Regions from separate parts of the Homo sapiens genome. Here all the other regions are reported to be linked to region 1. Evidence: microRNA targets listed by miRTarBase, many of them from high-throughput screens and not tested one by one. Region 1 holds a microRNA gene; each other region holds the end of a gene's coding sequence.
Evidence for each region. Region 1 holds the annotated microRNA hsa-miR-6788-5p (CUGGGAGAAGAGUGGUGAAGA, at 2,000-2,020, opposite strand). A microRNA usually pairs through its seed, bases 2 to 8, with sites in the 3' UTR of a target mRNA and lowers its output. Matches are read on the target gene's strand: a 7mer-m8 pairs with bases 2 to 8, a 7mer-A1 pairs with bases 2 to 7 and ends in A, and an 8mer does both.

Region 2: miRTarBase lists NUDT7 as a target of hsa-miR-6788-5p. The part of its 3' UTR that is shown has no 7-base or 8-base seed match.
Region 3: miRTarBase lists MAZ as a target of hsa-miR-6788-5p. The part of its 3' UTR that is shown has no 7-base or 8-base seed match.
Region 4: miRTarBase lists PGAM5 as a target of hsa-miR-6788-5p. Seed matches in the 3' UTR shown: 7mer-A1 at 1,921-1,927, 7mer-A1 at 1,889-1,895 and 7mer-A1 at 1,376-1,382.
Region 5: miRTarBase lists LY6G5B as a target of hsa-miR-6788-5p. Seed matches in the 3' UTR shown: 7mer-A1 at 2,442-2,448.
Region 6: miRTarBase lists ZMYM1 as a target of hsa-miR-6788-5p. The part of its 3' UTR that is shown has no 7-base or 8-base seed match.
Region 7: the mRNA of INTS13 is a reported target of hsa-miR-6788-5p. Seed matches in the 3' UTR shown: 7mer-A1 at 653-659.

What each region holds. Positions count from the first base shown.
Region 1 is chr18:10,757,625-10,760,624 of GRCh38, forward strand. MIR6788 (microRNA 6788) reads right to left here and starts at 2,025; the gene lies at 1,960-2,025. PIEZO2 (piezo type mechanosensitive ion channel component 2) reads right to left here. Exons shown (of 56, transcript NM_001378183.1): 25 at 2,081-2,285; 26 at 1,858-1,959; 27 at 345-510.
Region 2 is chr16:77,741,352-77,744,445 of GRCh38, reverse strand. NUDT7 (nudix hydrolase 7) reads right to left here. Exons shown (of 4, transcript NM_001105663.3): 4 at 2,186-2,864. The coding sequence ends at 2,496. LOC107984878 (a long non-coding RNA gene) reads left to right here. Exons shown (of 6, transcript XR_002957866.2): 6 at 1,446-1,576. Among named protein-coding and RNA genes, the nearest start is that of NUDT7, 20 kb to the right of the region's middle.
Region 3 is chr16:29,809,809-29,812,902 of GRCh38, reverse strand. MAZ (MYC associated zinc finger protein) reads right to left here. Exons shown (of 5, transcript NM_002383.4): 5 at 1,739-2,826. The coding sequence ends at 2,672. It overlaps PRRT2 (proline rich transmembrane protein 2), which reads right to left and starts at 710. Exons shown (of 4, transcript NM_145239.3): 1 at 580-710. MVP-DT (MVP divergent transcript) reads left to right here. Exons shown (of 4, transcript NR_186424.1): 3 at 2,730-2,868. RefSeq lists silencers at 708-857, 1,258-1,337.
Region 4 is chr12:132,720,659-132,723,752 of GRCh38, reverse strand. PGAM5 (PGAM family member 5, mitochondrial serine/threonine protein phosphatase) reads right to left here. Exons shown (of 6, transcript NM_001170543.2): 6 at 1,019-3,075. The coding sequence ends at 2,925. Among named protein-coding and RNA genes, the nearest start is that of PGAM5, 11 kb to the right of the region's middle.
Region 5 is chr6:31,672,053-31,675,146 of GRCh38, reverse strand. LY6G5B (lymphocyte antigen 6 family member G5B) reads right to left here. Exons shown (of 3, transcript NM_021221.3): 3 at 1,601-3,094. The coding sequence ends at 2,865. Among named protein-coding and RNA genes, the nearest start is that of LY6G5B, 3.6 kb to the right of the region's middle.
Region 6 is chr1:35,114,803-35,117,896 of GRCh38, reverse strand. It overlaps ZMYM1 (zinc finger MYM-type containing 1), which reads right to left. Exons shown (of 10, transcript NM_024772.5): 10 at 2,038-3,094. The coding sequence ends at 2,638. Among named protein-coding and RNA genes, the nearest start is that of ZMYM1, 37 kb to the right of the region's middle.
Region 7 is chr12:26,902,857-26,905,950 of GRCh38, reverse strand. It overlaps INTS13 (integrator complex subunit 13), which reads left to right. Exons shown (of 17, transcript NM_018164.3): 17 at 415-770. The coding sequence ends at 454. Among named protein-coding and RNA genes, the nearest start is that of INTS13, 34 kb to the left of the region's middle.

The DNA.
Region 1 (3,000 bases):
AAGATGAGGATGAGCTATGGGGATGCAGAGGAGGGATAAGAGATGAGCAGGAGGACCCTCCACTGGAGAGCTGGTATTACTGGCACAAGTCAGTTTTGGTATGAAGAAGAGGAGGAGAACTGAGGCCATAAAGAGGCGGTTTACATTGACAAAAGCAGGTGCAGTGCTATAATTCAGAGGCTCAGCCTCCAGGCTGCTGAACCACATTGTCCAGCATTTATTAACTTCAGTGTATACAATTCAGCAGATCTGTTTCCCAAGTATAGCAGAGAAAGTATAGAGGAGCAATGTAATGGAAATGCACACATCAAAGTGGCTTTTAGCAAATGTGAAGCTCTTGTTACCTGCAGTGAATAAAATCTGGCACAGGGTTATGTTGGCTGAAGGAGGCCGCATCAAGGTTCATGCAGATCTCGACATTGTCACCTGCCATGATTCGCACTGCAGCCTTGTTCTCATCCTCAAAAATCTGCCGTTGTAAGGAGGCACACAGAAGCAGCATGAAGTCATCTAACAAGACAGAGGTGAGATCATTAAGCCGCCTCATCCTCTTCTGATTTACATAATGCAACACACAGTCATCACACAGCAACAGCCATTCCCCAGCTCCTAAGTGAGTTGTGTTCCCAAAGTTCATAGTAAAATTCATCCTGGAGTCCAATGTCGGGGCCAAGTCACACCTTCTCCACCTTGCAGGGCATAGAGTGACCACAGACACTCCAGGAGCTTACGTGGGGAGTCTCTGAATTTTGTTTGCACATCGGTGAGAGAAATATTAGGTGCTACTTACTAGTCTTCATGAGTCTCTTAGAGGGTAACATTTTTGTGTGTGTGTGTGTGAGACAGAGTCTCGCTCTGTCGCCCAGGCTGGAGTGCAGTGGTGCGATCTTGGCTCACTGCAAGCCCCACCTCCTGGGTTCACACCATTCTCCTGCCTCAGCCTCCCAAGTAGCTGGGAATACAAGTGCCCGCCACCATGCCTGGCTAATTTTTTTTACCTCCCACCAGTTTTAAGGAGGCCACTTGAGCAATTTCCCCATCTTTATCTTTTTATGTGTGGTGGATGCAGACATTCATTTTTCTTTATCCTTTCCATCCTCCTTTGCATTTGTAACCAAAGACTGTCCCCAAAGCAGAAGCCACACTGCAAGTGTGGTGAGAGCAGGTGGAGGTGGTGGACTGTGCTGGACAGCACAGCGCAGCCTGAGAGAGCTGTCCTCCCAGCAACTGCCCACAAAGGGCTGAGGCCAAGCCTGCCTGGAAGCCTGAACACAAGCTGCTTCCTTGCTTTTAAAATTAAACCTAAACTTGTTTAGGCAGGGCAGTCATTTGCATTTTCTGTAAAACCCAGCACTCTGGTCTTGGAGGAGCTGCTCTGACCTTTGGATCACCAGCTGCCATGGGAAGGCCTTGGGGCTGCAGCCCAATTCTAGAGCAACTAAAATCTGGGAAGCATCTCCCAGCATCCACTGTCCCATGTTCAGGGTTTATTTATCTGCACTGGGAGCCAGAAACCACCAAGTCAGAAAACACAAAAGCCTTCCTCTCTGGTCTGTCTTTTGAAAGGTGGCTGTGTAAATGTGTGTGTGTGTGTGTGTGTGTGTTTGTGTGTGTGTGTTGGGGGAAGTGAAATTATGCAAGTGAATATGGCATTTCCAACACTGATTTATTAATTTTGCAAATGTAATAGGGTGAGTAGAAGCCATTAATGACTTGTGATATTAATGCATAAGACAAGCCTTTACATGATTACGAAGTCTAGTGGAAGACAAAAGGCACTAATGCATAGCACGTGAACAATGATTAACAGTAAACCCGGATACCAGCACTCTGTGGCCCTGCAGTGGAAACACTTACAGACGAGAAACACAGGGTTGGGCCGCACAATGAAATCTGGGAAGTACAGCCACTTTATGATGTTGTCATTGAAGCTGGCACCCTTGAATCTCCACGGGTAATCTGCAGGGAGGGAAGTGGCGAACAGCACAATCAATACTCTTCTTCACCACTCTTCTCCCAGCCGTCCGCTCAGTAATGGCTTCTTCTAAAAGTAGACGGCTCAAGGGAAGGGCAGGCTCACCTCGGCAAGGAGCAGGTGGGATGCCAATGCAGATGAAATACTGGAAGGTGATGATGCATGCCAGGAAGCAGCAGTACTTGGGCCAGATCTCTGCGATGGCTTTCCTTCTGCGTCTATATAAGACAGCGATCAGCCAGCAGGCGTGGATCATGGCATAGAAATCCATTCGCTGGCCAATGACGTTAACTGACATTAGGAAACAGGTCTGTGTAAAGATGAAAAGAGGCAAAAAAAAAAAATCAGGCATATGGGAAAGGGGACTGGTGATAGGTGTCAGGTCTGTGTAGATGGCGGAGACCCATGTCCCTCAGGGCAAGTCTGTCTGCACAGATTCACAAATGCTTGCTCTTTTGAGTGTCTCAGCGTGAAGACAGAAATACTGTACAGATTACTCCCAGGGAAAAACTGACTAAGTAGCTGTTATCATAACCACTTCAGACAATAAAGAGAACAGCCATTTTGATCTCCTCATGAAACATCACCATTCCTACTTCATTCTATGAAGGCACAGGCACTATCACAATCGTTTTAGGTTAAAACAGTTCATTTTGGCTGCAGCTTATGGTTTCAGAATGCACAAAAAGAAAGAAGATTAATACTTTATTATTTATTTATTTTGAGATGGAATCTTGCCCTGTCACCCAGGCTAGAGTGCAGTGGTGCAAACTTGGCTCACTGCAACCTCTGCCTCCTGGGTTCAGGCAATTCTCCTGCCTCAGCCTCTCAAGTAGCTGTGATTACAGGCGTGCACCACCACGCCTGGATAATTTTTGTATTTTTAGAAGAGATGGGGTTCCACCATGTTGCCCAGGCTGGTCTCAAAGTCCTGACCTCAGAAGATCTGCCTGCCTTGGCCTCCCAAAGTGCTGGGATTACAGGCGTGAGCCACCGTGCCCAGGCAGAAGATTAATACTTTATTC
Region 2 (3,094 bases), not on the chromosome of region 1:
CATAAATTGTGTGGCCATGGGTGTGCTCAGATTGACTTCAGCTGGACCAGGCAGATCTGGGAGAGTTCACATAAACAAACAGTTTGGAAGGGAGGCTTTCTGCACTGTCGGAGAGGTCAACCATCTACCCGGCAATTATACTGCTGTCAGATTGTAAATACACATTTGCAAATGCTTCTGTAATTGTTCGGAAATAGTTCAGGCCTGTTCATGCAGGGCTGGTTACAGAATGTTAATGGGGTAACGTACCCAACATCTGCTTTCATGGTTGGAACCAGATCTCTGCCATTTAAACATATATGGGTATAAAGCAGCCAATCAGGTATTTGCCTTTGCCAACTCTCAGAAAAGAAAAACTCAGCCGCAATGGACAGTCACATGGCTGATTGATAGGTTTGGTGTGGGCATCACATTTTCAACTATAACAAAGTCTTATTAAACATGGTTTGGCTCTCTAAAAAGCTAATAACAACAATAAGATGTGAAATCGCCATCACAGAATTGTGGTTAGGTTGCTTGACTCACTTGCCTCTCTGGCCTCATGAAGGATGATGAATATAATTAAACAAAAAAATCCATGCTAACTCTAAAGCATGATATAGGCAGATACCCACATAAGAAGTAGAAGATCTCAAGGGTGCATTACAGAATGTCTGTCTTTTCGTCTTTTGATTTGGGGCTTATGCTTTAAATCACTATTTTGCTGCCGTCATCATCTCGAAACATACATCATTATCCCTCCCAATTGGTAGGCATATAAGCCTCTTATATTCCTCAATTTCAGCTGTTTTGGATGATTGCTGAACCCCACCTCCCACCCAGGGAGGGCATCCTATGTGTTCCCCAGAAGCCACATGTAAGGTGTCAGATTGGCCAGGCTCGGTGGCTCATGCCTGTAATCCCAGCACTTTGGGAGGCCGAAATGGGTAGATTACCTGAGGTCAAGAGTTTGAGATCAGCCTGACCAACATAGTGAAACCCCATCTCTACTAAAAATACAAAAAAATTAGCTGGGCGTGGTGGTGGGCACCTGTAATCCCAGCTACTTGGGAGGCTGAGGCAGGAGAATCGCTTGAACCCTGGAGGTGAAGGTTGCGGTGAGCCGAGATCACGCCACTGCACTCCAGCCTGGGTGAAGGAGCGAGTCTCTGTCCCAAAAAAATAAAATAAAATAAATAAAGTGTCAGATCATCCCCATTTCTAACTGCTTGCAACACTTCAAGTTCAGATGAATATTCTAGTTATTTTCAGGTGCTGGAGCGTATTGGTTAGCTCTGCTATAGAAAAGTGACTCCGAATTACAGTGGCAGACGGATGATACAGAATTTTATTCTTTTCTGATGTAACAGTACCAAGTGAAGAGCCCAGGTTAGAAGGTTACTTTGCTCCACAGAGTCATTCATCGATTCAAGCTCTGACATCTTTCGGTTCTGCCATTCCCCCAGAGAATGTCCTCATTTGTATGGTCAAGGCTGGGTTGCAGAGAAGTCCATGTTGCAGCTCATGGAAAAAAAGAACCAAAGGGACTCAAGAACACTGGCTTATGTCTTAGATTGGAGATGACCTGGAAAGTCAACTTTCACCCATAACCCATTGGCCTAAAGTAAGTCCCAGAGTCAACTTGAATTGCAAGGGATCCGGAGTAATGCTGTTTATACCTGGAGTGCTGGGGACCCAGCTTAAACTCTACCACCATAGAAGACAGGGAAGATAGATTTTGATGGATGACCAGAAGTTTCTGTTACATGTACAACAGATTAAAAATATATATATTGCCAGCTGGGTGTGGTGGCTCATGCCTGTAATCCCAGAACTTTGGGAGTCCAAGGCAAGTGGATCACCTGAGGTCAGGAGTTCGAGACCAGCCTGGCCAACATGGCAAAAACCCATCTCTACTAAAAATACAAAAATTAGCCAGGTGTAGTGGCAGGCGCCTGTAATCCCAGTTACTTGGGAGTCTGAGGCAGGAGAATCGCTTAACCCAGGAGGTGGAGGTTGCAGTGAGCTGAGCCAAGATTGTGCCACCGCACTCCAGCCTGGGTGACAGAGCAAGAGTCTCTCTCCAAAAAAAAAAAAATTATATATATATATTATAAATATATGTGTGTGTGTGTGTGTATATGTGTGTGTATATTATATATGTGTATATATATTGCCTACTGCAAATAAGGTAAATGCCACATGGTTATATATTCAAAAAATCTTTATTAAGGGCCTAGTATGTGCCAGATATTCTTTATTATATGTGTAAGAAAAATATTATTAACATATTGTGGGTGAAAATATGCAACACTATGAACATAGTTTTCATTTTTGAATGGCTTTTACTTTTTCAGACAATAGAAGGCAACTGGAAAAGAGGCAAGGATTCTAACTACATACTGCAGAAAAAATATTCACACCTGTCAAATTCCAACAGCTGGCATTGTTGTTGTTCTACGAATAAGCACACACAGAATCCTCGTGAATAGTTCTTTGTCTCTTGCTCTAGTAAATCATAACCTGCTTGTAGCTTTTTTATGAACCTTCAGGAATAACTCTTCAGAGGATGCTAATACATCATTAAGATTAAATTGAACCTCAAAGGTGGGTTTTTTTTCCAAAATGATAAAGGCCACCAACACTGCAAGGTTTGCCGTCATTCCCTTGATCTGGTAAGTGACACCGTCTTCAGGGTTTGTGTACTCAAAGATATGATTAATAAAACGGTGACCAAGACGTGTGACGTAATGCTGGTCATGGACCTGTGGATGCAGGAAATAGGCCAGAGGCACCAGGAATACATCCTTAACTTCAGCAGGATTCGGCTGGGCCTGGAAGTTGTGGTCTATTAAACCCACAAATGGAGTTATCAATGTATCTGTCTAAAAGCAGAAAACAAAACAGACAAATTAAGAAGTGAAGTGATACTGCTTCAAATCCTAAAATCATGCCACTTCTAGGTGAGCTAAGAAAATACACCGAACCTGGGAGAAGGGGAAGAAAGCTTATTCCGGAAACAAATTTATGTTCCCCCTAAAATGGGAGTCATCCTGCTCTACCTGAGGTGACATCTATGAGATGACTCTGAAAATGATTTCTTGTATGAACATAA
Region 3 (3,094 bases), not on the chromosome of region 1:
GCCAGCCTTGCACTGCCTCTAGGGAGAGGAAGAAAAGTTGGGGTTTCCTTTGCCTTAGGGTGGGACATCCCTGCGGGAGGAGTGCTCTACTCAAAGTCTTCTGCTTGGAGAGCCCTGGGGAAGATTAACCCTTTTGTAAACAGGACCTTCTCCAGGGTCTCTCCCTGGGTCCATCCAACAAGATCCAGACTCTCAGATCCCAGCACCCCAAAATCAACGAGCTGTGCAAATAGCACTCCGACAGGCCGACTGGGCAGAGGACCCGACATTCGCATTCCACTCCCTCTGCATCCTCCCCTCCTCCCTGGGCTCCCAGGCGGTGCGGGTTTTCTTGCTGCGCGTTTAGGGCGAGGACGCTCCCGCCCCTTTCTGGGGGACCTGGTTATCTCCTTCGATCCCCTGTCAGCCCCTCTCCCGGGGCTTCCCTCGCCTTCGGTGGGCTGGCGCCTCCTCCCGATGGTTCAGCCCGCCCAGCACCACCACCAGCCCTCCAGACACCCGCATTCCCGTGCAGTCCGCCCGGCGTCAGCCGTCGGTCGGTCCACTCCTACCCGCAGCCTCAGTCTGCCCGGGTCTCACCTCGACGCCGGCCTCCGGACAGCTCCCGCTGCCGCTGCTGGCTTTTGCAGCAGCCGCAGCCCGGGAGGGAGCAAGTCAGCTAGGGAGGGAGGGAGGCGGCGGGTCTCCCTCTTCTCCTCTCCCGTGTGCTCATCCCCTCCTCTCCGGTCCCCTCCCCTACGCTCCGCCGCCGTCGCCGCCCCCGCCCCTCGCGAGCCTCCGGCCCCTCCCGCCAGCCCAAGGGAGCCACGCGTTACCCAGGCAACCGGCCCGGGGACCACTCGCGCCCCCTCCCTGCCCCTTCTCACGCGCGCCTCCAGGAGAGACGCCTCCTTCTTAAGTCCCCGGCCCCTCCCGCCAACGGTCACCGGGATTCCTGGAAGAGACGGGGATTTGGGGGAAACGGAGAGGGTTCTGCGAGGAGACGGGACCAGTGAGACAGGCAGGACCGGGTGGAGGCGTCTCTACGAGCAGGAGGGCAAGGAAGATGGGGCAAGACGCGGGGAGGCTGCAGAGGAGGAGCAGGGTGGGGTTTGGAGAGAATGGAGCCTGCAGAAAGGAGCGGCAGAAACTGGCGCTGGAAGGCTCAAAAAAGGGGCCCTGGAAAGGACGGAGCGGGGACAGGAAAGGGAATTCCAAGGGGCAGGAGGAGCTGGGCAGAGGAGCCCGTGTAAACACAGAGTGGCCCATGCCCAGGATGAGGGACAGGTGCAGCTTTCATTCTCTACCTCGCTGCTCCCAGTCCTAGGGCTCGGACTCCCCAGCCTTTCCGCAGCCGCATCCACCCACCATGGCCTCAGGGCCGTGACGCGCGTGGGGAGGGATGCGGCTGGGGGCTGAGCAGCGGCCATGAGTGTGGACGGGGGAGGGCGGCATTCCCGTCTGGCAGCTCTGTTTGGGTTTCTGACGGGGCCTCTTCAAACCTCCAGGGGCTATTCTGGGCCTGTCCGAGTTGGGAATTCCCCAGAGACCTGGAACTTGCTCTCCACAGCCACAGCCTTGGCCCCGCCCTGTATCTGTGCTGCCGCCAGTAAGGCTGCCCCTGGGGAGGGCGGAGCCAGAACCTCACAGCCTCACAGGGCAGAGCAAGGCTGGATTGACGGACACCAGGCCGAGAAGAAACCCTTGGGGTTGGCGGCAGTTCTTAGTGAGGGCAATTCATTCAATCCAGAGCCAGAAACAGGATTTTATTTAAAATTTATTGTAATGGGGTCCGCGCAAAAGGAAGGGGTGGAGGGTGGGGTACATGCAGGGGACACAGGAACACGATGACATGGCCAGGGCCACAACTTCTTCTGTCGTGGGGAAGAGGGATGAAAAGACAAGACCAGGGCTGGAGCTGGGGTGGAAGAGGGGAGGGGGACACTGGCTGCATTCCCCCGCCCCCAGGAAGCACCTCTAGGCCCTGGACCCCTCGCTCACCCTGGCCCCTAAGACTCCATCTCTTCTCTGCCTCTGGCCCTCCTGGCTCTTCCTCCTGCTCCCCTTGACTTTTTCCCCTGACAGATTCTCAAGTAGGACGATGTTCAGGGCCTGACCCCAACCCCCCATACCACCTTATGAAGGTACAACCTTTGCCGGCCCTGCTTCTGCCCCTCCTCAAACCTCACCGCTTTCCCTCTTTGGGACAGCTCTGATCCCCCTCCTTCCTCTCCTCCCTCCCCCTGGAAAAAAAAAAAAAAGGAAAAGAAAGCACCAACTCCCCGGGGAGGGGCTGCAGACAGCAGGGGGAGAGGACTGGAAGGAGAGAAGAGGACCGTCGAGGGAAGAGGCTCACAAGTCCCTGGGAAGACAGGGCATGGGCTTACAGAGAGGAGAGGGGGTACGGGCAGTGGCTGCTCGTGTCCTCTGCCACCCCTGCCCACTGTCCAGGGGACTTCAACACAACCGAGGGGACAGGTTTGTGTGGGGTCAGGTCTGACAGAAGAGGAGCAGGAGAAACAAATCGTTAAAACCTAGCGAATTCCCCTAAGAAAACATTTCTTCCTCCTTTCCTTCTGGAGGCTCCTTGGTTGGTAGGGAAATAGGAGTTGGTGGGAAAAGAGGGGGGAGAGGAGCTTGTACCAAGGGACTCTACTCCATTCTCCCCTCTCCCCCGCAACCAACTTGGAGCTCACCAGGGTTGGGAGGGAAGTGGCTGAGAGCTCACAGGCACCCCCTCCGCCCCCGAGAGGGAGCCCACAGCTGTGGGAGGGGCTGCTACTGCTGCCGCTGCTGCCGCTGCCGCCGCTGCCGCTGCCGCCGCCATTGGACAAACCTCACCAGTACCTGCACAGGAGAAACACCACGGATCACAGCGCGATCTGAATGGCAAGAGCCTTGCCCTCACCCCACACCTTCCCAGCCTGCTTCCCCTGGGACACAGCCGTTGCTCACTTCCTATCTGGACCCCAGAGGCCTCAGCCTGCATCCTCACCCAGACAGAGCAGTTCTCAAGGATCCTCCCTGTGCCCAGAAGTCTCCCTAGCCTGAGTGGTACATGGGCATCCCTCGCCTTCCTGAGATCCCCTATTGGGCCCTTTGAGCCCCGTTGTCC
Region 4 (3,094 bases), not on the chromosome of region 1:
TGCTCGTGGTCTCCCATCCACTTCCCCCTTTAGACCAGGTAGTCTGTCCAGATCTTCACATGAGTGCGACTCACGTCTATGACGTGAGCGATGGGAGTGGCCGTGGGCTGCGCAGGGCATTGGGGCCAGCTGATGTGTGGTCATTCCACTTTGTGATGAGCTTTGCTGCCCAGCAAACCTGCGCCTGCTCTGAGCATTGCCTCAGTGCCAGGCGTGCTGGCGCTGCTCCCACCTCCAAGCTTTCCCACTTTACAGAGGAGCCGGGGCCCTAAGCAGAACAAAGGCTTAGCCCTGCAGCGCTGCCCCATCCCTGGAGGCCCAGCGTTGGGGCTGTGGCGTGGGCGCCCTGTGTAGCTGACTTAGAGCATCCCGGACTGCTTCCTCGCCAGCCTTGCTCCCGTCTGAGGTCAAACGTGAGCGTGCCTGGTATTTGTTTTTGAAGTTGGCGCGTCCCTGGCTTATCAAACTATTTCTAGACAGTGGTGTATGGTTGCTGTGGCTGTTGTCTCCACAACCATTGGTCAGCCTTGCCGTCCTGGTCAGGGATTTGGAAAGGGCCCAGGCCACTGGCGGAAGTCCTCTGAGCAGGCAGCCGGTGCGATGCGGGCAGAGGCGTCAGCCACGGGGAGACAGGACACTGTGCAAAGGGTTCTGGTGACACCATCGTTTCTCACACTGCACAAGTTTCCTTTTTTTTTTTTCTTATTAGATGGTGTCTTGCTCTGTGGCCCAGGCTGGAGTGCAGTGGAGCGATCTCGGCTCACTGCAAGCTCCGCCTTCCGGGTTCAAGCGATTCTCCTGCCTCAGCCTCCTGAGTAGCTGGGATTACAGGCGCCTGCCACACCTGGCTAATTTTTGTATTTTTAGTAGAGACGAGGTTTCAGCATGTTGGTCAGGCTGGTCTTGAACTCCCGACCTCATGATCCACCTGCCTGGGCCTCCTGAAGTGCTGGGATTACAGGCGTGGCCACCGCGCCCGGCCGAAGTTCCACGCTTTTAACACACTCACAACTAGTCCTTTTAAAAAAACAGTAAAATTTTATTTATTATGCAATCATTTCCAAAGTAGACAGAGAAATAGATCAGATATCCCAACTGTATTGACTACAGAAAATAGTCACAACCACTTCATAGAAATTGTACTGTTTTTCCTAAATTAACAGCATATCTGGGTACACACAACATGTTTGAATATTTTAATCCCTGGCCAGGCATGCTAGCTCACGCCTGTAATCCCAGCACTTGGGGAGGCCGAGGTGGGTAGATCACGAGGTCAGGAGTTCGAGACCAGCCTGGCCAACACGGTGAAACCCCATCTCTACTAAAAATAAAAAATTAGCCAGGCATGGTGGTGGGCGCCTATAATCCCAGCTACTTGGGAGGCTGAGGCAGGAGAATCGTTTGAACCCAGGAGGCAGAGGTTGCAGTGAGCCGAGATCGCGCCACTGCACTCCAGCCTGGGTGACAGAGCGAGACTCCGTCTCCAAAAAAAAAAAAACAAAAAAAAAACCACACATTTAATCCCTAAGCATAAAAGATTAACTGGAGGCAAACTAAGATTGAGCTGTCAATCTGAAGTATTTTACTCAATAAGGGTAACCCCCTATTGGGCTGTCACTAGCGTGTCACCTCAGCCGAGACCAGCATGAAGGTCAAAGGCGAAGCCACCTCTGTAGACCCACCTCACCTGCCCCTCCCCCATCCAGTCACCTGTGCAGCTGGCTAGTCCCTCGGCCCCTAAAGACCTAATCAAGTTGGTGAGTTCAGACCCAACATCATCAGGAAATCTGTAAATTTGGAGAAACTTGTTTTCAAAGCAAAAACCCAGATGAAGAAAAAAAAATTTTTTAGGCCAGGCACGATGGCTCACACCTTTAATCCCAGCACTTTGGGAGGCCAAGGTGGGTGAATCACCTGAGGTTGGGAGTTCGAGACCAGCCTGAACAATTCTATATTGGTTTCTCCATGAAACCCTGTCTTTACTAAAAATACAAAAAATTAGCCAGGTATGGTGGTGGGCGACTGTAATCCCAGCTACTCGGGAGCTGAGGCAGGAGAATCACTTGAACCCAGGAGGCAGAGGTTGCGGTGAGCCGAGATCGCACCACTGCACTCCAGCCTGGGCAACAAGAGTGAAACTCCGTTTCAAAAGAAAAAATTGCTTTAAGTCTCCCTCGCTTGCCCAGGCTGGAGTGCAGTGACACAATCACAGCTCACTGCAGCCTCCAGCTCCCGGGCCCAAGTGATCCACCCACCTCAGCCTCCCAAGTAGCTGGGACTCTAGATGCCCACGACACACCCAGCTAAGTTCTGTATTTTTAGTAGAGACAGGGTCTCGCTATGTTGCCTTGTCCAGGCTGGTCTTGAACTCCTGAGCTCAAGTGATCCTCCCACCCTGGCCTCCTGAGTAGCTGGGAATACAGGTGTGAGCCACTGTGCCCAGCCAGAAAATCTTTAATTGACAAATATTTAAGGGACAAGAGGGTTTTAAGAAATTAAAAGGATGTATGAAGTGAAGTGAGTTGTGAACAGAACCTGGGTGCCCTCCTCATCCACGTGCCTCAGTCGCCCTCGTGCCTGACCGGCTTTGCCAATGGAGCCTGGACCCTCAGCACGGGTCAGCTGTGGGTGCGAACATGGTGGTCTGGGTCAGGCCTCTTTCAAGTCCCCACAACAGGCCTGACTTGTGCGTGAGACGCTTTCACCTTAAACCCCACGCCATCCTGGGGGTTCATGGTCAGGTATAAAACCCTGCAGAGAAGTCAGGCTGTCTGATCCCAACTCTCCCCTTCTCAGCCTGGTCACAAGTCAGTTCCCAGATGCAGCATTGCAGGTTTCTACTTTCCGCCGGTCTCCTTGGGAACAAAACGTTAAGTGTGTGCGGCCTGTGCAGGGAGGACAGAGGGAAGGAGAGGCCGGAGCCCTCAGGATCGAGTGATCTTGTCGGGAGGCATGAACCCCGTGTCCCCGAGGGTCCTGAGCGCAACTCGGCCGTTGGGTCGGATCACCAGGTGGGTGATGCTGCCATTATTGAGGGAGAGCCGGAGCCAGCCTTCAGGAGGAAACTGCAGTGCTCTGGGGAGAGAGAGAGAGA
Region 5 (3,094 bases), not on the chromosome of region 1:
AAAGGTTTCATAACCCAAGCACTGGGCTGCAAGACTTGGAAGGGCAGACACCTGGCTATACTCATCTGGGAGTCCTGCTGCTCAATACCAAGCCTGACTCAGAGCAGCGTTATGTCCAGCATGTTTATCCAGTGTATGGAAAAGGCTGTTGTATCCATCCTTGCTTTCTATACGTTTGCACTATTTCAAAATTAAAATATTAGCATGAAGATCCAACCACTGCAGCCCAACATCAGTGCTCTCAGCACTTTGCCCCTCAAATTGGGCCCCTCGAGAGGGCATCCTGGATGCCAGAATCCTTGAAAAGAACTAAGGAATGGCAGGAGTCCAGGGCCCCAGCAGCAGGTAACTCTGGCATGTGGCTCTGAGTTCCTGAGTCTTTCTGGTTTAAAGAGAAAGTTTCTTTTTTTTTTTTTTTGGAGACAGTCTCGGTCTGTCACCCAGGCTGGAGTACAGTGGCACGATCTCGGCTCACTGCAAACTCTGCCTCCCAGGTTCAAGCGATTCTCCTGCCTCAGCCTCCTGAGTAGCTGGGATCACAGACACGTGCCACCATGCCCAACTAATTTTTTTTTTTTTTTTTTTAGTAGAGATGGGCTTTCACCATGTTGGTCAGGCTGGTGTCGAACTCCTGACCTCATGATCCGCCTGCTTCGGCCTCCCAAAGTGCTGGGATTACAGGCAAGCCACCGCGCCCAGGCTTTTTTTTTTTTTTTTAAGACAGAGTTTCGCTCTTGTTGCCCTGTCTGGAGTGCAATGGCGTGATCTCAGCTCACTGCAACCTACACCTCCCCGGTTCAAGCAATTCTCCTGCCTCAGCCTCCCAAGTAGCTGGGATTACAAGCATGAGCCACCATGCCCAGCTAATTTTTCATATTTAGTAGAGACAAGATTTCACCATGTTGGTCAGGCTGGTCTCAAACCCGACCTCAGGTGATCCACCCACCTCGGCCTCCCAAAGTTCAGGGATTACAAGCATGAGCCACCGCACCTGGCCTAAAGTTTCTTTTCTTAGGTGAAAAGACCTGGCATCATCAGGGTCTAACTTTCCAGGTTTTGTAGGGTATGTTTAAGGCTGGGAAGAATCACAGTCCCCATGCTTTGATCTCCAGCTAAGCAGAGGGTGGGGAGGGATGTGTGCCCTTTACAGGAGGCCGAGAGGAAGCGACAAACGCCAAGTGCAATGGAGAGGGCTCTGCAATCCTATTTGGATCCCAAACCTCACTAACCCTTTTTTTTTTTTTTTTTTTTGAGACACAGTTTCACTCTTGTTGCCCAGGCTGGAGTGCAATGGTGCAATCTCGGCTCATCGCCACCTCCACCTTCCAGGTTCAAGTGATTCTCCGGCCTCAGCCTCCCGAGTAGCTGTAATTACAGGTATGCGCTACCAAGCCCGGCTAATTTTGTATTTTTAGTAGCGATGGGGTTTCTCCATATTAGTCAGGCTGGTCTCAAACTCCCAATCTCAGGTGATCCGCCTGCCTCAGCCTCCCAAAGTGCTGGGATTACAGGCGTGAGCCACTGCGCCAGGCATTAACCCTCTTTAATCTGTGTTTACCTGCCCACACCTGAGCCTGACCCCACAAACAATGTGACACAGTTTTAGCCCAGTCCCAGTTTATTGTGGAGGAAAATGGGGGACATGGAGCTGAGCAGAACAGACCCTTCCCTCTCCTCTCACAGGCCCCTAGGGAGATGGGTGTCAGGACTCAGTGAAGTGAAATGGGGCCGAGGAAGCCAGAGACTGACAAGAGAGCAAGAGAGGACAGGAGGCAGAACAACACTAGGACAGGCGGGGGTTGGTGGAGACAGTGAGGCAGGGACACAAAATTGCCAAGTCAGGACATCTGCACAGAATTCTATTCCTCATCCTTTTTTTTGGAGACGGAGTCTCACTGTGTCACCCAGGCTGGAGTGCAGTGGCGCGATCTCGGCTCACTGCAACCTCTGCCTCCCGGGTTCAAGTGATTCTCCTGTCTCAGCCTCCTGAGTAGCTGGGATTACAGAGGTGTGCCACCACACCCAGCTGATTTTTCTATTTTTAATAGAGAGCGGGTTTTACCATGTTGGCCAGGCTGGTCTCAAACTCCCAATCTCAAGTGATCCGCCCACCTCGGCCTCCCAAAGTGCTGGGATTACCGGCGTGAGCCACCATGCCCGGCCTCCTCGTCCTTCTTGCTGCTAGTTCAGTCTGGTACTGGGTCTTAGAGACATGGACAAGACAGGGGAAACAGAGCTAGATGTCAATAGGCAGGTGACTGGATTGAGAGGGATGGGGGATACTGGAACACTCAGATGATGGGGAAGGAATGGAGGAACCACTGTGCCTTTCTCAGGTCAGCCTGTCTGGGCAGAATCCACACTAGAGATTCTTTTCTAGGGGGAAGAACAGCACCAGAGCTCAGACAGGCACAGTGGCTCACACCTGTAATCCCGGCACTTTGGGAGGTCGAGGAGGGCAGATTACGAGGTCAGGAGTTCGAGACCAGCCTGACCAACATGGTGAAACCCCGTCTCTACTAAAAATACAAAAAATTAGCCAGGCGTGGTGGTGCACGCCTGTAGTCCCAGCTACTCGGGAGGCTGAGGCAGGAGAATCGCTGGAACCCGGGAGGTGGAGGTTGTAGTGAGCAGAGATCATGCCACTGCACTCCACCCTGGGTGACAGAGCGAGACTTTGTCTCAAACAAACAAAAAAACAGCACCAGAGTTCAAGAGAGAAAATTACACAAAAGTCATATAGATGCTAGTGGTACAACAGACGGAGGCCTAAGAAATCACAGTGACCAAAGAATGTGGGTGTTTTCAGAGAGGGCAGTGCAGGATGCTGAGGGTGTTACAGAAAGATATTTGCACTGTGGAATTCAGGAAGGGTGAGGTGTCAAGAGTCCAGCCTGGGGAAGAACCAAAAGTCCTGAACTATTGAGGAACAAGTACATGCGGCGCAGCTCAGCAAAAGACAAGCCCAGGTTCAGGGACAGTGTGACCATGGGGTCCAGGCCATCAGGCTCCGTCCCAGCATGGAAATTGGGGAGGGGCAGGGAGAGGTTCAGGGCCTGGTAGAACCACTGAATCTGGGAGTCAGACAGAGGCA
Region 6 (3,094 bases), not on the chromosome of region 1:
ACGATCTCAGCTCACTGCAACCACAGCCTTTGGGGTTCAAGCTATTCTCCCGTCTCAGCCTCCCGAGTAGCTGGTATTACAGGCATGTGCCACCACGCCCGGCTAATTTTATAGTTTTAGTAGAGACGGGGTTTCTCCATGTTAGTCAGGCTGGTCTTGAACTCCCGACCTCAAGTGATCTGCCCGCCTCGGCCTCCCAAAGTACTGTGATTACAAGTGTGAGCCACTGCGCCAGGCCTGTTTTCTCTTTTTTAAGGTGGAAATCAATAAATTAGGGCCGGGCATGGTGGCTTATGCCTGTAATCCCAGCACTTTGGGAGGCCAAGGTGGGTGGATCACCTGAGGTCAGGAGTTCGAGACCAGCCTGGCCAACATGGTGAAACCCCATCTCTACTAAAAATACAAAAAAATGAGCCAGGCGTGGTGGTGGGCACCTGTAATCCCATATACTTGGGAAGCTGAGGCAGGAGAATCACTTGAACCCGCGAGGTGGAGGTTGCAGTGAGCCAATATCACGCCACCGTACACTCCAGCCTGGGCAACAGAGCGAGACTCCGTCTTAAAAAATGAAAGAAAGAAAGTAAAACAGGTATATAGAAGATACTGAGAATATTTTCTACAACTCTAGGCAAATGCATTTGAAAGAAAGCCTCAATGAAATAGATGTTCTCCTAGAAAAAGTACAAGTTATCAAAATTGATGAGAGGGTAAGGGAGAAACAGCTGGAGAAAAGTGCCAGAGAAATAGTCTTTAAAAAAAAAAAAAAGGCCGGGCGCGGTGGCTCACGCCTGTAATCCCAGCACTTTGGGAGGCCGAGGCGGGCGGATCACGAGGTCAGGAGATCGAGACCACGGTGAAACCCCGTCTCTACTAAAAATACAAAAAATTAGCCGGGCACAGTGGCGGGCGCCTGTAGTCCCAGCTACTCGGGAGGCTGAGGCAGGAGAATGGCGTGAACCCGGAAGGCGGAGCTTGCAGTGAGCGGAGATCGCGCCACAGCACTCCCGCCTGGGCGACAGAGCGAGACTCCGTCTCAAAAAAAAAAAAAAAAAAAAAAAAAATTCCAGGCCTAGATATATATACCACTTAATTCTTTCAAATCTTTGAATATCACATTTTCTTTGTTATTTAAACTTTTCTGGCTGGGCGTGGTGGCTTATGCCATAATCCCAGCACTTTGGGAGGCCCAGGTGGGCGTATTACCTGACGTCAGGAGTTCAAGACCAGCCTGGCTAACATGGTGAAACCCCATCTCTACTAAAAATACAAAAATTAGCCAGGCGTGGTGGCGTGCGCCTGTCATCCCAGCTACTTGGGAGGCTGAGGCAGGACAATCACTTGAACCTGGGAGGCGGAGGTTGCAGTGAGCCGAGATCATACCATTGCACTCCAGTCTGGGCAACAAGAGCAAAACTCCATCTCAAAACAAAAACAAAACTTTTTTGAAGTATAAAGAAATAGTCTTTTCTTTGCAGGTTACTTAAATATAGTTATATTTTCATAACATGGCTTAATAATTTATTGTGCCATCCAGCTGAGATGTATAAATCAAAACCACAGCAGTGATTTTAACGTTTAAACAGGACAGTCTACAAAAAAGGAAATACAAATGGCTCAAACAAATAAACAGATACCTAACTTCATTCTTGTTTGTTTTAAAGAGATAAGGTCTCACTCTGTTGCCTAGACTCTGGAGCATAGTGGTGCAATCATGGCTCACTGCAGCCTCAAATTTCTGGGCTTAAGCAATCCTCCTGCCTCAGCCTCCCAAGTAGCTGGGACTTCGGGTGTGCAGTACCACACTTCACTAATTTAAAAAAAAAAAAATTGTAGTGATGAGGTCTTACTATGTTGCCAACCTCATCTTGAACTCGTGGCCTCAAGCGATCTTCCTTCCTGTGTAGGCCCTCAAAGGGCTGAGATTATAGGTGTGAACCACCACGCCCAGTCCCCAACCTTATTCTTAAGTGAATATACAAAATTCTACTGAGATTAAAACGCCATTTTTAAAGTAAGAGATTAGGAAAGATCAAAACATTTGATAACACTTACAAAGATTTAATAGGCACTCTCATGCATTGTGGGTGGGACTGTAAACTGGCACAATCCTTATAGATGGCAACTTGCCAATATCTATCAAAAGTAAAAATGCACATATCTTAACCTAGTAATTCTAACTTTAGATTTCCAGCTTACAGTAAACTCACTCATGTGCAATGTGACCTATATAAAAGGTTATAAAATGAATCATTATTTATAATAGCAAAAGGTTAGGAAAAAAATGTCAGCAGGGACTGCTCAAATATATTATGGTACATTCATACAATAACATCTGCAATTATAGACCAAGAATCAAGAAACTCTTCATGTAACGACATGGGACAATCTCAAAAATATGTTACACAGAGAAGACAAGCTGAAGAACAGTATACACCGTACAATACCACTTAGGAAAAATACCTCTAGAGGGATATTTAAGGAAAAGATAACACTTTTTGGGAAGAGAAAATGAGTTCTAAAGGAGGGAAGGAGACTTCACTGTTTATCGTTCTGTGTCTTTTGAATTTTGAACAATTTTGAAATGAAAACATCCCAATGGAAATACAAGTCTTTTAGGTAAGTTCAAATGAGCATGTATTATATTTCTTTCATCTGACTGATAAACTTTTCCACAATTTCATTGAGTCTTTCAGGCTCCATTAGTTTATTTACCAACTCCTGCTCAACAGCCATTAGGGCTGGGCCAGTAAGCTTCTCTTGTCCCATGGTATTACATAAATATGTCTTAAGACGAGGCAGGGTAGAAAATGAGTTCTCAGTACTTGCTGAAGTAATTGGCCAAGACAAAGCAATATATAATAGCTTTGAGAGACAAGGAATATTACTGTGAAGACCATGCTGAATAAACAAACAGCCGAGACTGACGAAGTTTATGCAACTATCATCTATGACAAAGTTAAGCTTTGCATAATGTCGATAAAATCTAAGTTCTGGGATAATGTCCTCATCAAGTTTATAAAATTCCTGAACATGTTTTGCTGTTGTTTCATTTAATGGTTCATTCCATTTAAATAACAGTTCTGAAATTTGCTTT
Region 7 (3,094 bases), not on the chromosome of region 1:
AAATAAATCTCAGATCTGATTATTTTGATTTTTTTAGAAGAAATCCTCTTAATTTGTTGGTGGAAATACATTTATTTAGTGGGGAAGGAAATAAATTCTTGATGAAATTGTAGAGATTTTTTCCTTAGTTTTGCTTGGAAAGGGAGAGTGTGGTATAGTCAAACAAACAAACAAAAAACAGTGGCCTTTGACTTGTAACCTTGGGAAAGTCACTTAGTCTCTCAAGGCCTCAATTTTCACTGTAAAATGAAGAAATTGGCCTAGCTAGAGGAACCCTGATGTTAGTCCTTTCCTAAAATGCTGATGTTCTGTTCTGTGAATATATTATTTTAATTTTCATGTGAAAGGTAGATAAGGAGACAAAATGTTAATGAATATTTATTTTATCAACTCGTTTTTTTCTTCCTATTTCAGGATGGAGACAACAGAAAATGGAAAAGCCAGCCGGCAGTGAAGAGTGACTTGAAGAACTAAATTTAGCATATTGCAAAAATATTTTGTGCGGAATTCGATATAAGTACTTTTACAGCAAGATGGTATAGTTATGTTGCCTGGACTGGTTTTTACATTTTTAAAATATTTCAGCTGTCATTTTTGTACTAATTATAAAATTGGCACATAATTCAAAAATATACATTTGAGATGATTTGTCCTCCCAAATTATACAAGTTTATTTTATGGTATAAAGTGTTCTCTCTGGAAATGTTTTTAAAAAAATTCTTAGGCTTCTCTTTGCGAAATAAAACTATTAAAATATTTGAAATGCAAAACATTGGAGAATTACTTTAGAAGATACTTTAGTTACTTAATGACTGAAAACAACCTATAGGAATTTTTAAAAATTTGATGAGAGTTTAAGATTTGCAATACTTAATATAAAATTTTGCCTATTAAGCTGCATCATATATTGTGCTTTTCTAAAAAAGAACATTGTTTTTATCTTGTTTTAAGTTATTTTGCATATGTGTTCTTACCCATTTAAAAGTAGAGCTTTCAGGTAGGTTGTATAATTTTATATTTACTAGTATTGGGTAGTTTTACTCTTTATATTTTTCTGCAAAATATTTTCCATCCATTTGCTTTTCTTATTGAAAGAGAAGCGTAAAGGAAATTACTTCACAGATTTAGAAGAAAGAAAAGTTACTAGGTTGATTTTATCTCTGGATAGAATCTTAGTCTCATTTCTCAGAGATGTCATGGTTACATGTTATATGTTTCTTGGGCCTTTTTCCTGTGCTGCTTCATCTAGAAGTTTATAACATGTTACAAAAGGTAGGTTATTTCAATGTTAAATGCTAATTGTAAGTTTGCCATTTTTTTCCTTGAGTGTTTATTAGAGAAAGGAAGCTCTTTATACAGACTCAGTATTTTCTTTTTTTTTTTTTTTTGAGACGAAGTCTCGCACTGTCGCCCAGGCTGGAGTGCAGTGGCGCGATATTGGCTCACTGCAACTTCTGCCTCCCGGGTTCACACCATTCTCCTGCCTCAGCCTCCCAAGTAGCTGGGACCACAGGCGCCCACCACCACGCCTGGCTAATTTTTTGTATTTTTAGTAGAGACAGGGTTTCACCGTGTTAGCCAGGATAGTCTCAATCTCCTGACCTCATGATCTGCCTGCCTCGGCCTCCCAAAGTGCTGGGATTACAGGCCTGAGCCACTGCACCCGGCCCTCAGTATTTTCTATTGAAAAAAAAAAAAAAACAACTGGTCTTTACACAGGGGTTCAGCAGCCTTCCAGGTCAGCCTGGTGAAATTGACATTGCTCTCCTTTATCAACTCCTGTCTCATTCTCAGTCCTCTTCCCTCAGATAGAGCTACTTTTACTCCATTCCACTGTGTTTAGATATACATTGACACAAACCATACACAGGCAGGGCCAGGCCTAATTAACATCTTAGACTTTCGGGGTTTAAGGAACCATAACCCAATAGCTAATTAATAGATCATATTTACTTTTCAGTGGGCTCTGACCTTTTATTTATTTATTTTTAAATTATACTTTAAGTTCTGGGATACATGTACAGAACGTGCAGGTTTGTTACATAGCTATACGTGTGCCATGGTGGTTTGCTGCACCCATCAACTCATCATCTACATTAGGTATTTCTCCTTATCTTATCCTTCCCCTTGTTCCCCCACCCCCCCGACAGGCCCCAGTGTGTGATGTTCCCCTTTCTGTGCCCATATGTTCTCATTGTTCAGCTCCTACTTATGAGTGAGAACATGCAGTATTTGGTTTTCTGTTCCTGTGTTAGTTTACTGAGAATGATGGTTTCCGGCTTCATCCATGTCCCTGCAAAGGACATGAACTCATCCTTTTTTATGGCTGCATAGTATTCCATGGTGTATATGTGCCACATTTTCTTTATCCAGTCTAACATTGATGAGCATTTGTATTGGTTCCAAGTCTTTGCTATTGTGAACAGTGCTGCAACGAACATACGTGTGCATGTGTCTTTATGGTAGAATGATATGTAATCCTTTGGGTATATACCCAGTAATGGGATTGCTGAGTCAAATGGTATTTCTGGTTCTAGATCCTTGAGGAATTGCCACACCGTCTTCCACAATGGTTGAACTAATTTACCCTCCCACCAACAGTGTAAAAGCGTTCCTATTTCTTCACATCCTCTCCAACATCTGTTGTTTCCTGACTTTTTAATGATTGCCATTCTAACTGGCATGAGATGTGATCTCATTGTGGTTTTGATTTGCATTTCTCTAATGACCAGTGATGATGAGCTTTTTTTCGTATGTTTGTTGGCCACAAATGTCTTCTTTTGTGAAGTGTCTATTCATATTCTTCGCCCACTTTTTGATGGGGTTGTTTTTTTCTTGTAAATTTGTTTTAAGTTCCTTGTAGATTCTGTATATTAGCCCTTTGTTCGATGGATAGATTGCAAAAACTTTCTCCCATTCTGTAGGTTGCCTGTTCACTCTGATGATAGTTTCTTTTGCTGTGCAGAAGCTCTTTAGTTTAACTAGATCCCATTTGTCAATTTTGACTTTTGTTTCCATTGCTTTTGATGTTTTAGTCATGAAGTCTTTGCCCATGCCTGTGTCCTGAATAGTATTGCCTTGGTTTTCCTCTTGG